2 linked regions of the Homo sapiens genome follow. The protein of the gene in region 1 purifies or fractionates together with the protein of each later gene. This does not show direct contact. Each region holds a gene or a part of one and is shown on either strand. Other genes may lie near its edges.

Region 1 (3,650 bases):
ATAAGAGTAGAGATCTCGATCCTCTTCTCAGTTCAGCTTCTGAATCACCTGGCACCATCATTTAACTTTACTGAGCCTCTATAAAATTAAGATACAATAATGCCCTATTTCTACTCTCCACTTGATAGTGATATTCCCAGTACTCAGGCAAGAACATGTTAATTAATAAGAGCTCTTTGAATTTCTTTGAAGCTGCTGAGATGTCTGAGGTGGCATGACAACACATGGCAGGATTAATATCATTTGCACTTATTTTGGTATTTATATTAAATATAATGCAGTATTTAAATTCGCAGACAAGTCAGCTCCCCATTATCTATGTTTTAATATTTATTTGTGTCCACTTTCGAGGTGAAACTGACTGTATTCAGCATTTCAGCCCGTGTTTAAGGTGGCTTGTCCCTGAAAGGTGGAGTGTTGGGGATTCATGCAAACATTTGAGGAAGGGCACCTCCCAGAAAACTTTCTTTGGTGCCTTTTACCTCCTGCTTCTTTTACTCACTCATTGGGGTTTTGCCAGGCCTTACACTGCTCTTTCCTCAACTTCTTTCCCTCTTTGCCGCTTTTCTATTTTGTCGTTCCATGCTTGAGCATGGCCTTCCCCTCCCTCTCCTGTCAGCCCCACCCACTCTTGTCTCACCCATCATGGCCCTTCTCTTCCTCCCAGTGGTTTTGTAGGATTCGCTGCCCTGGCCACTTGGGCTGCAAGTGGCCAGTGCTCCTGTTTGGCAAGCCAGCTGTGTGGCACTGCTGGGCACGCATCAGCAGACAGTCAATGCTAGGTCCCTGTTTGTTGGTAGGAACAAGATGGAAGGCAAAGAGTACCAGTGTCTCTCCTCACCCCAACCCCATCGTCTGTGTTTGACCCCACTCCTTCTCTGGACTCCTTGGCCTCTGTTTACTACATGGAACAGTGAGATGGGAATGTCAAATTATCTGTAGAGTGTTTCAATGCTAATCTGAAGAAGAGCTATCAGGCCTCATTACTCATGTGAATTGACACCAGTATGTAAGCACTGAATTAAATCTATTGTCGAATGGATTTTGGAAAGCATTATAGCAAGCATTAAGCAGGTACCCAAATGGGAGGACAGCCATCCTATTTTCCTAACTGTAGAAATTCTATTTAGTCTTTCAACAAGCATGAGGTTTTCCCCATCCTTTTGGGGATTAGTTCAGTCAAGATGGCAGCATAATCAAGATGTCAGAGGTGGTCCTAAGTGAGGAGGTTCAGGATCCAAAAGCCAAGAGTGGGCATTAATGAGTTCATGGGGTCAGGTGAGTATTATTCCGTGTTTGGTATCCCCAAGACCATCCTCAGGCTCAATTATTCACTAAAAGTACTCACGGGACTCAGAAAAAACTGTTATACTTATGGTTATGGTTTATTACAGCAAAGGGATACAGATTAAAAGCAGAAAAGGGTGAAGGTGCATGGGGTGAAGTCCAGGAGAAACAAGACACAGGCTTCCATGTGTCCTTTTCTAGTGGAGTCAAACAAATATGCTTAATTCTTCCAGCAATGATTTGTGACAACATGGGCGAAGTATTTGCCAATCTGGGAAGCTCACCTGAGCTTTAGTATTCAGGATTTGACTGGGATCAGTCACACAGACATGCAATATCTGCATGACTGACCTCAGCTACTCAAACTCCAGGCTCCCAGGGCAAAAATAGGTGTTCACCATAAATCACATTGTTGGCATAAAGTGTCTCATCATACTAGTATTGTGGGCCCAAGGCCTCTGGCATGCAAAATACTCTTATCAGGTAAAATGTTACTAGGACTCAGAGCTCATCTCTCAGAAGCTGGTCAAGAGCCAGTCCTAAAAACAGGCCTGTCTTGGGAATGTGCGGGGCTTGAGCAACTCAACCGTTTCCAGCACATATTCCCAGGGTGAAGACACTGGAAGGCTTTGGACACATGACTGAACTTCTCCTACCTCAGCTGTCACCTTCCAAGCGTAACATTCTCTCTTCCTTCCACATGGGATCATTGTGATTCTGAATAGTAACGACTATTTTCACAAAAAGTAGGTCATCTACAGCAAGGACACTATAAATTATTATTGTTATTTGTATCATATCATTATTATTCAGGGGGTGGAGCATGGGAATGAGCCCTGAACACTTCCTTGTTATCTCATAACAAGTCAGAAATGCCTTTTCCCAAGGTTCTGAAGGCAAAGATAACTTCAGAACAGCGTGTCTCCACTCCACACTGGCATTTAACCCTCTCCCTTGCTCTTCTCTGTCTCCCTTTACCTGGCAGTGGCTGAGAAACCCTGGCCCCCAGCATGAGAAGCGGACTCTGTTTGGCGACATGGTGTGCTTCTTGTTTATAACTCCCCTGGCCACCATCTCGGGCTGGCTGTGCCTGCGGGGCGCCGTGGACCACCTGCACTTTAGTAGTCGGCTGGAAGCCGTCGGACTGATTGCACTCACTGTCGCACTCTTCACTATTTACCTCTTTTGGACACTAGTAAGTATGGGCCGTGGCTGGGGTTCAGGCCATTTGGAGCTGGCAGCCTCACAGCTGGCACAAGCCTTTCCTCTTGTCTGTAACACATCTCACCTGCCCGGTAGAAAACAGACCTTCGATTGCTGGCGGGAGCATGAGATTTGGTTTATGACTATGTGTGTGTGTGTGTGTTTGTCTGTGTGTGTGTCTGTGCTGCTAAGGCGGATCACATAAAGAAAAAGTTTGGCTTCTGGGTGTCCATCAGTCAAAGACACAGACACACCATGGACGTTTCTCTCCTCTAGTAGTCTAGGACTCCATCTGTTATGAGTCTTGGCATTTTCTTTCCCTTGTTTATGTTTCTCATTTTTGCCGGGATTGTAGTATATTATGAATGATGCATTTGGCTGCTGTTGCTGTCACTGCCTGCACAGATCGTGAATCCTCCCTGCTGGTTATTTCCTTCTTACGTCCTGACACAGCCTAAAGTCTTTGTTGGACGTGGAGCCGCACTTTGCCTGGTGATTATTCTGTGTGTTGGGATATTGACTCTGCTGCCCATAAAAGCACTAATTTATCTAGCTGAGAAGCTGCCACCAAAGAAAGGCCATTTCCCAATAAGTGTTCTCGCTGTGTGTGAGGAAGAATTTTTACATATCACTTTTTTCATTCTTTTAACTTTTAACTTCATGCAGTAAGTTGATCGCTTGAGTACCAGTTGACAGCACCCACAAAATGCAACATTTGATCTCTCTCCTTATGCTTTCCTCTGGGAGCTGCAGGGAAGGACATCACTGTCTTCTAGAATATTTTCAGAAGCTGGGCCCCCTGCTTCCTGGCATTACTCTCCTGTGCCTGCTCGTTTCTAATCTGAGCACGTTCCACTGTTATTCAATATGTATTTCCTGTCTAAAGTGTACCATTCCCATATCCCATAGCACAGTGTCAGCATGTGGAAGCTGCTTCTAGCACATACTTCCTCCCTTTCTGTGTCTCCCAGACCCTGTTCCTCCAGCTGCCACTCCCACAACCCTGTTCATTTCCCTCTTCTTCATCATATGGCTCTTCCAGCTCTGTGCCTCCCCTCCAGTGAGAGTGTTCAAACAGTAAGGAGATACATTTCAGTTTCAGTAAAGAGGGAGTGTTCTAATGCTAAGAACTTATCTGAGTCTTATGGTTAATTTAGACA
Region 2 (3,650 bases), on another chromosome or scaffold:
TTGGGAGGCTGAGGCGGGCAGATCGCTTGAGCTCAGGAGTTCAAGACCAGCCTGGGCAACATGGCAAAACCCCGTCTGTACACAAAATACAAAAATTAGCCAGGTGTGGTGGCACACGCCTATAGTCCCAGCTACTTGGGAGGCTGAGGCAGGAGGATCGCTGGAACCCAGGAGGTTGAGGCTGTAGTAAGCTGAGATTGCGCCACTGCACTCCAGCCTGGGTAACAAAGTGAGACCTTGTTTCAAAAAACAACAACAACAAAAAAAAGTGAGCAAAGAGTTTTTCCAGAGAGGAAGCAGCAAGCATAAGGGCCTAGAGGTAAAACAGCACCTAATAGATTTAGGAAAGTAAAATTGGCTCACATGACTAGAGTACAGAATGTGAAGAAAAAGTGAATTATCTGGACAGACAAGACTGGAGAAGTAAGCAAAAACCAGGTTATACAAGACTTTATAAACCACACTGTGCATTATCCTAAGAATAATGAATAAACATCCAAAAGTTTTAGCCTAGGGAGGGTGTGATCAGATTTGCACTTTAAAAAGGACACATTAAAAAAAAAAAAAAAAAAAAAACAAAGGACACATTGGCTAGAGTGCGGAAAACTGACTCAAAGGAGGACCAGACAGGAGACTACTGCAGTATACCGGGTAAGAAATGAGGAGGGAAATAAACTAAAGTAGAATGGGTAATAAAGAAAAAGGGACAGAGAAGAGATAGGAGGCAGCATTTATAGAACTTGGTGACTGGCGTGAGACAGGTTAACTAAATTTTGCCTCCCACATTTGTACCTTGGGCAAGTGGATAGATAGGGGTACCTGTTGAATTATATTAATGTTCACAGAGGACTGACATGAATTACAAGGAGATACAGGAACTCAGGCAAAATCTTTTCCTCCAATACTCTAAAACTATTTGCACCATTTCCACCAATGACTTCCACATTGCCATATCCAGTGGCTCTCTCTGAAACATATGATAGTGTTGACCACTTCCTTTTGGAAAGTGTTTTATCTTCACTAGATTTCTTGACATCAGGCTTGCCTGGTGCTATAGACTGAACTGTGTCCTTTCAAAATTCATATGTTACAGTGTGACTATATTTGGAGACAAGGCCTTTGGGAGGCACTTAAGATTAGATGAGGTCATGAGGGTGGGGTCCTCGTGATGGGATTAGTGGCTTTAAAAAAGAGGAAGAAAAAGATCACTCTCTTTCCACCACCTGAGAACACAGCAAGAAGGTGGCCATCTGCCAGCCAGGAAGAAGGCCCTCATCAAGAACTGAATTAGCGGGCACCTCACGCAGTCTCCAGAACTGTGAGAAACAAGTATCTGTTGTTCAAGCCACTCAGTCTATGGTATTTTGTTATAGCAGCCCAAGCAGGCTAATATACCTGGTTTATATCATAGTCCCTTTCCCTCTACACTAACGTTTTCTAGCTTCCTTAGCCTCCTGCTTTTTTCACACTTACTTACTCCCTGGAGGGCAGCATGCACTCTCATGTTTTGTTGTAGTTTGTTTTCAGCTACCACAATTATGCCAATGATTCCCAAATCTCCATCTGACCTATCTCCTGAGCTCCAGGACTACCTACACTACTGTCTACTAGACATATCCAACTGGACATACCATAGACAGCTTAAACATGACATGCCCAGAATGAAAGTCATCACTTTCCCCATAAAATTTGTTTCTCCTAAACCAGACTTGTAAGTCACTTGGTGCACAGGCCACAAAAGGTAACAAGGTATGATCCCTGCCATCAAGAAGCCTACAGTCAGGGTACAGAAATAAACAATCATTTCAATTATAATACAGTCTGAGGCCAGGCACGGTGGCTCATGCCTGTAATCCCAGCACTTTGGGAGGCCGAGGCGGGCGGATTGCCTGAGGTCAGGAGTTCGAGACCTGCCTGGCCAACATGGTGAAACCCCATCTCTACTAAAAATACAAAAATTAGCCAGGCGTGGTGGCACACGCCTGTCATCCCAGTTACTCGGGAGGCTGAGGCAGGATAATCACTTGAACCCAGGAAGTGGAGGTTGCGGTGAGCTGAGATTGCGCCATTGCACTCCAGCCTGGGCAACAAAAGCGAAACTTCGTCTCAATAATAATAATAATAATAATAATAATACAGTGTGAAAAGTGTTACAATATGAACAAACTAGATGCTATGTAGACACATAAAAAGAGTGTCTGATTGCGGTGCCTGACTCAGTGTTAATGTTCAGGGGTTTCTGGAAAAGGAAACATCTAAGCTCAGGCACACAAAGTGAGATTTTTAAAAAATTAAGTAGATAAATATATTCCAGTAAAAGGTAACAGCTATTGCAAAGGCTAGGAAGAGAGAAAGAACCTAGCATTGAATTGTAAATGGCTAAGTATGAAGTATGGCTGGAAAGCAAAACTGAGGACTAAAGTAGTAAAAGATGAGCCCACAGAAGGAAAAAGTGGCAGATCTTGAAGAATATTCCAAGTCCCGTTAAGGAATTTTACCTTGAGGGCAGACAGTATCTGTTGAAGGAAGGAATATGATCAGAACTGCCCTTTTAGAAGCATTAAAGTACAAATTAAGAAAGTATTTCGCTTGGGACCTGTAAAGTGAGCAAAAGTTTACAAGGAGGCTTAGGGGGAGAACAGCATTCCTAGAAGATAACAAAAGCATGAAAAAAAGGTACCAAAGCTCGAAATAACACAGCTAGATCAGAGACACAGGCAGAGAGGCATGGCAGACAGATAACATCTCCTTCTACTATAACTGCATTTTAATTGGATTACATATTCTATACTCTCTTAAAGCTACATATGGCTGTGACTAAATTCTGGCTCATAATACATGAGTGGAAGATATATGCCCTATTTCCCAGTCTTGCCTCTAAAAGGACGACTACATGTGCTTTCCCTGGACATTTTCCCAGGAACTGCCTAGAAACACAAAGACTGTAAGTCTAATACATTTTTAGAGAAAGTATAAAGCCAAAATCATAAGAAGCTAAGATTATTTAACCCCTAACCTCTAGGCCCACAAACCTACGCTGGCAGCAAGAGGACTACAAAATGGGTACAATTCCCAAAGATGATATACTCTCTAACTACCATTTTGGATGTGGCCAGAAAGGAAAAACTTCCTGGAGAACAAAGCCAGGAGTCAGGGAAAAAGGGTGAGGGAGTTCCTCCAAGAAAGCAGAACCACTAACCACTTCCTGGTCAGAATAGGGAGTCTTTGAAATTGTGTGAGGCAATTATTTGATCATTACTGGAAAGCAATGACTTCTACATGTTTCTCATTCTTCCCTTTTCCAAATGGGAGTTTGTAACTCTCACTGTGATGATCCTTTTCTTATTTCACCATTGTCTACTGGGTTAGGCTGGGAAAGCAGGGAAAACATATGACTTATCTTTTACTTTATGGTCAGTGGACCACAGGAGCCACACCAGGGCCTGATGGATAGGACTGTGTACCACCTAGACATGCTGGACTTGGAGCCAAACACAGTGACTAGATAGGTCTTTGGAGCTACCTCTCTCAGAGAAGAGGCGTATTCTATGTTTGGGAAGAAAGGTTCACTGAAATATCTGGGTGGCCAGGAGAGTAGACTGGAAGACTGCAAGTCATCCCCTGATATCCTATAACTTCCTCCAGAGTAA

What was found. Proteins that work in one complex are often made in the same cells at the same time.
Region 2: the proteins of MARCHF3 (region 1) and VAMP7 purify together in Homo sapiens (affinity purification with mass spectrometry, with the first as the bait; one large-scale study listed by BioGRID). This does not show direct contact.

The regions. Positions count from the first base shown.
Region 1 is NC_000005.10:126,877,017-126,880,666, reverse strand, and holds part of MARCHF3 (E3 ubiquitin-protein ligase MARCHF3), read left to right. Parts: intron 1-2,272; coding exon 2,273-2,482; intron 2,483-3,650. UniProt on the Homo sapiens protein: E3 ubiquitin-protein ligase which may be involved in endosomal trafficking. E3 ubiquitin ligases accept ubiquitin from an E2 ubiquitin-conjugating enzyme in the form of a thioester and then directly transfer the ubiquitin to targeted substrates.
Region 2 is NC_000023.11:155,891,228-155,894,877, reverse strand, and holds part of VAMP7 (vesicle-associated membrane protein 7), read right to left. Parts: intron 1-3,650. UniProt on the Homo sapiens protein: Involved in the targeting and/or fusion of transport vesicles to their target membrane during transport of proteins from the early endosome to the lysosome. Required for heterotypic fusion of late endosomes with lysosomes and homotypic lysosomal fusion.